Homo sapiens: one gene and its partner. The protein of the gene in region 1 purifies or fractionates together with the protein of each later gene. This does not show direct contact. Each region holds a gene or a part of one and is shown in the gene's direction. Other genes may lie near its edges. The genes, in order: PIF1 and HSF2.

What was found.
Region 2: the proteins of PIF1 (region 1) and HSF2 purify together in Homo sapiens (affinity purification with a luminescence readout; one large-scale study listed by IntAct). This does not show direct contact.

Annotation. Positions count from the first base shown.
Region 1 is NC_000015.10:64,822,534-64,826,850, reverse strand, and holds the start of PIF1 (ATP-dependent DNA helicase PIF1), read left to right. Parts: upstream 1-1,203; 5' UTR 1,204-1,282; intron 1,283-2,046; exon of another isoform or gene 2,047-2,223; intron 2,224-2,496; 5' UTR 2,497-2,515; coding exon 2,516-3,073; intron 3,074-4,240; coding exon 4,241-4,317. UniProt on the Homo sapiens protein: DNA-dependent ATPase and 5'-3' DNA helicase required for the maintenance of both mitochondrial and nuclear genome stability. Efficiently unwinds G-quadruplex (G4) DNA structures and forked RNA-DNA hybrids.
Region 2 is NC_000006.12:122,406,081-122,409,894, forward strand, and holds part of HSF2 (heat shock factor protein 2), read left to right. Parts: intron 1-3,814. UniProt on the Homo sapiens protein: DNA-binding protein that specifically binds heat shock promoter elements (HSE) and activates transcription. In higher eukaryotes, HSF is unable to bind to the HSE unless the cells are heat shocked.

The DNA of each region.
Region 1 (4,317 bases):
GGGAGGCCACGGTGGGTGGATCGTTTGACCTCCGGAGTTCGAGACAAGCCTGGGAAACATGGTGACATCCCGTCTATACGAAAAAAAAATTATATATATATATGTGTGTGTATATATATATATGTGTGTGTATATATATATGTGTGTGTATATATATGTGTGTGTATATATGTGTGTGTGTGTGTATATATATATATATATATATATATATATATATATATATATAAATTAGCTGGGTGTGCATCTGTAGTTCCAGCTACCTGGGGGGCTGAGGCGGGAGGATCACCAGAGCCCAGGAGGCGGAGGTTGCAGTGAGCCACGATCGCGCCACGGCAGAGGTTGCAGTGAGCAGAGATTGTGCCACTGCACTCCACTACAGCCTGGGCGACAGAGTGAGCCCTAAGAAGGAAAAAGGAAAGGAAAGGGCAATTTAATCCATGGTAGTTATCATTATCTGTAAAATGAGGTAGCCAGACTCACCTGTAAGATCCTTTCCAGCTATGTAATTCCAAGCTTCAATGAGATAATAAAGATGATTAAAAGTAAATTCTTTCAGCATCCTGTGCAAGAAGAGGGATACAATTTCCCTGAAGACAGAGACTCTACTCGCTTCCGCTGTACCCTCTGGCACGTGGCACAGGTCTCAGAGTTTCTCACTCATGGGCCTCAGGTGGGTGAGAGAGCCAAAGCGTAAAGTCCCTTACAAAGGCAGAGAAGGATGTAGAGTTGGGGGCGGGGGAGGGATTGGGCAGGCCTTGGGGTGGTCTGCCCAGAACTGGACAATGGTACTGTGAGTGTAAACAGGGGTGTGAGAGTCCAAAGGCAGATCTTCCCCAAGGCTAAGCCCAGCCTCTGTGTGCGGGCTAGAGGGGAGAGGGAGTGTGCTGGAAGGATGGTTCTGAAAATAAATCTTCGGAGTCGCGTAGGGTTTTCAGACCCGACACCACGCGCCGCCGGGTGGCTGCCGCAGCGGCGGCCTCCTCCCACCACGCCCAGCCGTCCACTGGATTTGGTATGCTCAGCCACCACCATAAACCTCCTTCCTCTAGCAGGCAATTGGTACAGCCCAAGCTCCTGGAGTAGAGACGCAAAGAAAGACACGCCCATTGTTACGCCCCTACCTCTGAGTGGCTGGAGAATTTAAAGATCCAGTCGGTGATTGGGTGATTTTCTGCCTCTAGCATTTGAAAAATTTCTAGTTTCGGAGCTTAGCCACAGGCCGGCTACGATCTGCTTGTTCATCTGAGTGTCGGCACAAGTGAGTGTCTGCCCGAACCCAGAGGTGGGGAGCAAAGAGCCTGATTTATCTAGGGGTTTCCGGCGGGAGGGTGCAAACAAATGGGTCAGCCTGAGGGAGCACGGCTTCTAGGGTCCCAGGGTCCCCCGCGATTTCCCTAGCCGAATATTTTCCACCTCGTCCCCACCTTGGTGGTGGGAAGCGCGAGGGCATGGGAATCACACTGACTTTGACTACTAGCCGCTGTGGCTTATGAAGGGCAAGTGAGTTTCCCTCTCTTAGCCTGTTTCCACGTCTGTACACGGGGAAGAGTGAGACCTGCCCGCTGCATATAAGCCAGTGAATGTACCTACAAGGCAGAAGTCGCTTATTACACGGCAGCCCTCTTTGCATCTCCCCACGGGCGATTCTCCTGCTTCCTGGGGAGAGTACTCTGAGGATTCATGTGCTCGCCCTGGGTCTCGGGGAAGGAGGATTCTTTCTGCGCAGGGACCCCTGTTCTAGTGAGGTCCTTGCAGGACACCTGAGGCTCCCTAATCCTCGGTGCCCATCCGCCGCTCTGGAAATTGTTGTGTAGCACGGTGTGTGTGTATATGTGTGTGTGTGTGTGTGTGTATATATATAGAAATTGTATATATATTGTGTGTATATATATATAGAAATTGGATATATAGAAATGGAAATTGTGTAGCAGGGTGCGTGTGTGTATATATATATATACATATATATACACACACACACACACATATATATAATGTATGCATATGTATGTATTTATATGTATGTATTTTTTTTTTAATTAGAGGGTGTCGCTATGTTGCCCAGGATGGTCTCGAGTTCCTGGGCTCAAGCGATCTTCCTTCTTCAGCCTCCCAAAGTGCTGGAATTACAAGCGCCCGCCACCACGCCCGGCTAATTTTTGTATTTTTAGTAGAGACGAGGTTTCACCATGTTGGCCAGGCTGGTCTCAGAACTCCTAACTTCAGGTGATCCGCCCACTTTAGCCTCCCAAAGTGCTGGGATTAAAGCGCGAGCCACTGCGCCCGGCCCAGGGCATATTCTAAGGGTGGATTTTCGGTTAGCCCAAAGCCCTTTCTCCGTCTTTGTGACCTCTTTGTGTTACCAGTGACAGTCCTCGTGATCTTGTGTAGCCTTGACCCTGCTCCCTGTCACGTCCTTTATAGCACCCATTACGTCCCCTATAGCACCCATTACGTCTCATGAATCCTCATGACCCCTGTGCTCCGGTGTCTTCGCAGACCAGCAGAGGCGGTGACGATGCTCTCGGGCATAGAGGCGGCGGCAGGGGAATATGAGGACTCGGAGCTGCGGTGCCGCGTGGCTGTGGAGGAGCTGAGCCCGGGCGGGCAGCCGCGAAGGCGCCAGGCCCTGCGCACCGCGGAGCTGAGCCTGGGTCGCAACGAGCGCCGCGAGTTGATGCTGCGGCTGCAAGCGCCAGGGCCCGCGGGGCGGCCGCGCTGCTTTCCTCTGCGCGCCGCGCGCCTCTTCACGCGTTTCGCCGAGGCCGGGCGCAGCACCCTGCGGCTCCCCGCCCACGACACCCCCGGGGCCGGCGCAGTGCAGCTGCTGCTCTCGGACTGCCCCCCAGACCGCCTGCGCCGCTTCCTGCGCACATTGCGCCTCAAGCTGGCTGCGGCCCCGGGTCCCGGGCCGGCCTCCGCCCGAGCGCAGCTGCTGGGCCCGCGGCCCCGCGACTTCGTCACCATCAGCCCTGTGCAGCCCGAGGAGCGGCGGCTCAGGGCGGCCACCCGGGTTCCGGACACTACGCTGGTGAAGCGGCCTGTGGAGCCCCAGGCTGGGGCCGAGCCTAGCACAGTGAGGACGGGAAAGAAGGGACACCTTTAGGAGTAGATGTGCCATTCTTTAAGATGGCAGAGACCTAGAGACCCAAGTTTGAGGGGAAGCCGGTGTGGGTATTTGATACCCATCTGACATCTCAGTATGACAGGGGTGTGGGAATTGTGCCTGTGGTTGTTATAGTGTAATCCCTGAGATGGAGTAAATCAAAACAGGAAATGGGACCTGGCTACATTAAAAGAGAAAGCAGAGGCCGGGCATGGTGGCTCACGCCTGTAATCCCAGCACTTTGGGAGGCTAAAGTGGATCACCTGAGGTTAGGAGTTCTGAGGCCAGCCTGGCCAACATGGTGAAACCTCGTATCTACTAAAAATACAAAAATTAGCCAGGCGCGGTGGCGGGCGCCTGTAATCCCAGCTACTTGGGAGGCTGAGGCAGGAGAATAGCTTGAACCCGGGAGGCAGAGGTTGCAGTGAGCCTAGATCGCGCCACTGCACTCCAGCCTGGGTGACAGAGCGAGACTCTTCCTCAAAAAAAAAAAAGAGAGAGCGAGAGAGAAAGAAGAGAAGGAGGCTTGCAAAGGACTACAGAAAGAATGCTGGGAGAGGGTAATAGGCCCAGAGTAGAGGAGCTTATGGAGAGAATGAAGTGGTCATTCGTGTCCTGGGCAGCCAACAGTTGAAGCAGATGAGGGGAAAAAAGTCTGGTGGGTTTGACAATTTTCATGGGCTGGGGCAGGTGAATCATAGCCCACCAGGGTTTGACACTAAGCTGGCGAGAGGACAGAGACAGGATAAGAAGGGGCCCTGGCTAGACAGGGTTTTGCTTGGGTATTTTGAGGTGAGAAACAGGTTTGTGATAGGAAGAGAAACTTAGGTGACAGGAAGGAAACTTTAGTGACAGGATGAGAAGGGTTAGGGAACCCAGGGGAAGGAGCTAAGGGAGGGTGTAGACCACACTGGTGTGGTCTGCCCAGGACTGGACAATGGGGGTCTTCAGGGCACAAGGAGAGATCGGGACCCCAATAGTTGCTGGCAAGCTCTCCAGGCAAACCCAAGAGCTCCATGGAATGAAGGCAGTAGAGGACAAAGGGTTACCAGGCCCAGCATTGCACATGGGCCAAGAAGGGTGGGGGCAATGCCTAGCGGGTGGGAGGATGCTCTGAGATAGCTCTGTTCCCCCCAGGAAGCCCCAAGGTGGCCCCTGCCTGTGAAGAGGCTGAGCTTGCCCTCCACCAAGCCACAGCTTTCTGAGGAACAGGC
Region 2 (3,814 bases), on another chromosome or scaffold:
TCTCTTTTATCCCCTGCTGACAGAACTTAACATCATGGCACCTAGAAAAAGAAAGATATTTATTTAAGGAACCAAGCTCTATGCTTGTAGAGCAGACAATGAAGAATGAATTTGGAGCAATAAATTGATAACTGGCCCATAAACAGACTAGGATTTGTGAATATTTTAGGTAAGGTGATGAGGAAAGCCTCTCCAAGGAGACGATGTTTGAGGAGAGATCTAAATGATTAGAAAAGATGGGCCAAAGGGGAATGACAAAAGGTAAGGCCTTGAATGTGGCTGTTCAAGGAAGCAGGAAGGCCCATGTGATTAGAATATCTTTAGGGAATTAGGAGAGTGAGAGTAGGGAGGTAGGCAGGAGCAGATGGTATAGGGCCCTAGATCTATAGTAAGAAGATTGGAAATGAGGGGACCAGTTAGAAGACTATCACAGTTTTCCTGTATGGTATTGAAAATATTGATGGCTGAGACTAAGGTAGCAGCAGTCAAGGTATTGAGATGTAGCTTTGAAATCTTTGAAGGCAAAGCTGCAGGATTTGCTGATAAATTGATAAATTGGCTATGGTTGGAGGAACGACAATTAAAAATGATTCATAAATTTGGTTTGAACTACAGGATAAATCCATTTGCTGAGGAAAGATGTTAGAGATTCTTTTTGGCATATTAACTTTGAGATTAAAAATGGATCTCTAGTAGTATTTGAAACAACTTGAAAATTGTTTAATTTTTCTTAAATTTGACCATGCCTAGTCATATGGCCACACCTAATTTCAAAAGGGATGAGGAAGTGCAGTGCTAGAAAAAAAAACAGGAGTATTTTTGAACAGCTTGACTGACTTCCACACTCCAAAATGTCCAAGTGGAAATGTTGAATAGGTGGTTGAGTATAAGACTTTGGCATTCAGGGTGGAGTTTAGACCTTGTAACTGGTAAAGCCAGGAGACTTAATGAAATCATCTTCTGTGAAGATAGAAGGAACCAAAAGATGTATTATTCCAACATTTAGAGAGTATGAAGACAAAAGCCAGCAAAGGAGGCTGAGACGGAACAGTGAAAAAGAAGGAAAATCAAGGGAGTGAACCCACAGAAGTTAATGAAAGAAAATGGCTCAGGAAAGAGATCAACTGTGTCACATGCTGTTAGGAATATTCTTGTATATCTCTCCTGGTGTATATAAGCAAGAGTTTCTCTAAGGTCTGTACACTCATGTGACTTGCTGGGATATAGGATATGAAATGTCTAACCTCAAGATAGTGTGAATTATCTTCCAAAGAGATCACACCAGCTTATTCCGCTATTAGCCATGTATGAGATTTTCTGTTAATCTGCCTCTTCAAAACTGTGTATTAGTTATCGTTCTTACTTTTTACCAATCTAATTGATGTAAAGCATTGTCTCAATGAGGTTTTGATTTATATTTTCTTGATTATTAATGAGTTCTAAAACCTTTTCACGTTCGTTGGCCATTTGTGTTTCCTGTTCTGTGAAATGTTTGTTTTGCCATTTTTCTGTTTTTTTTTTTATTATTTGTGAGAATTCCTATATATTCTACATATTCGAGTTTATGTTTTGGCCATATCTTCCAGTTTGTGGCTTTTTACATTTTAGTTGTCTAGCACCTTTACTGAGTAGTTCTTCCTTTTCCAATGATCTATATTGCCACTTCTATCTTACGTCACAAGTACGTGTAGATATTGTCTTAATCAGTTGGGCTGCCGTAGCAAGATATCATAGACCAGGTGGCTTCAACAACAGGCGTTTATTTTTTACAGTTCTGGAGGTGGAGAAGTCCAAGATGAAGGCAGTGGCCATTTCAGTTCCTGTGTTAGAGCTTTCTCTGCTTTGCAGACAGCTGCCTTCTCTCTGTGTCTTCCCAATGGCAGAGAGAGAGAGAGAGAGAGAGAGAGTGTGTTCTGGTCTCTCTTATCTTATAAGGACACCAACCTAACCTGGGGGGTCCTATCTTCATTACCTCCTCTGAACCTAATTACCTCCCAAAGGCTCTAACTCCAAATACCATCATATCAGGGGCAAGGGTTTCAACATAGAATTTTGGGGGACACAAACATTCAGTGGTTTTGTTTCTGGAGTCTTTATGCCATTCCATTGGACAATTTATCCTGTGCCTGTCTTCTGCTGTCTTAATTACTGTAGCTTCAGAAAAAGTCTTTTGGTAGGGTAATCTATCCTTCAGGAGTGCCTTAAGTATTTTTGGTCTTTAGCTCTTCCACATATGTTTTAAAATCAAGTTCCATAAAAAAAAAAAAAGCCTTTTGGATTTTTGCTGCAATTGGATCAAAACTATATAAATCAGATTAGGGAAAATCGATATCTCTGTGTTGTGTATTCTCATGACAAGGCATATTTCTAAATTCATTTTGTTGATTTATGTTTGCTATTAGGCCTTGTGGATCTTTGTTCATTTTCTTCCTGGATATCTTATATATGTTGTAAATGGTGTTCTTGACTTAAAAATAGATTTCTAGCTGTTGCTGGTAATTAGAAATACAAGTAATTTTTGTATATTGATAATAAATCAGTGAGCAAATCATTTTACTGATTTCAGTTTTCTGAGTACACCCATAGTATCTGTGATTGACATTTATTTTCTTCCTTTCAGACCTTTATGCCTTCCGTTTTTCTTTTGGCAGTAACTAAGAGTGAGTAGAAGCAATTATCATGGCATTCTGGCTTTGTTCTTAATTTTTAAAGGGAATGTTTTAATGTTTCCCCCTTACTAGCTGTTAGAATGAGAGTTTTTAACTTCATTTTTTTTTTTTTTTTGACATCAAATGTTGTCGGGTGACTTAGTGAGGAAGGGACTTGGTAGAATGGAAGACACAAGAAAAGATTGACTTCCGGGGAAACAGGAAATGGGTTTAGAACATACTGAGTTAAAGAACATAGTGTAAAAAATGTTAACATTTTAAATTGAAGTGTGTAATTTGAGATGATCAGGGACAGAGCTGTAGATGTGTTTATTATAAAATAAAGTCAATAATAAGATACCCTACTGTGGATGAATTCTAAGGAAAGAATATGAATGGTGCCACGATTAAGGATAAAAACCTGGAAAATACAGCTACCTCTTATTTGATAGGTGGAAGAAAATTGAAAGGAAATATAAGAGATAAGAGACTCAACAGTGTTTAGCATCAAAGCCCAGAGAGTCGAACATTTAAGGAGGAGATTGTTAGTTGTACCAAATGAAATGCCACAGAGAGGTGTAGGAAGATCAGGACTGAAAAGAGGGCATTGAATTTGATATTTGACATTTTAGAAATCTGGTTTCAGTCGAGTGAGGGAACCAAAAGCAGTTTTCAGTGAGAGTAAGTGGATGGTCCTGAATTGGAGAAGGGGGGTTTAAAATACCTGCTTGTTAAATTTTGCAGTTAAGGAAAAGACAGATGGGTAGATTGAAAAAGAAGGTATAAGAGGGAAAGTTCTTTTAAGATAGGAAAAGACGTATGCATTTTAAGCATTTTAATTTTGATAATTACCTAGTTGCCAATACTGGTTATTGTCAAGGGTTGTAAATTTAATCTAATAAGGGAAAATCATTATTTGTTTTGCTCTACATTCTTCATTTATGAGTCTGGGTCTCTTCTAAATTTCACAATGTGTTTTTCATCAAAATTGTGTTTCTGTTAGGAAGAAAGTAGAGGAGAGTAGAGATAGAGTAGGAAGCTAGCAGTCTCCATGGATAAATTTATATTTTATCTATATGTCTTCTGGGTTTATTATGTCATGTCTCCAAAAGCTTGCTTGTAAAGAGTAAGATGACATCGAGCTCTTATTTTTCTTCCCAAATGGA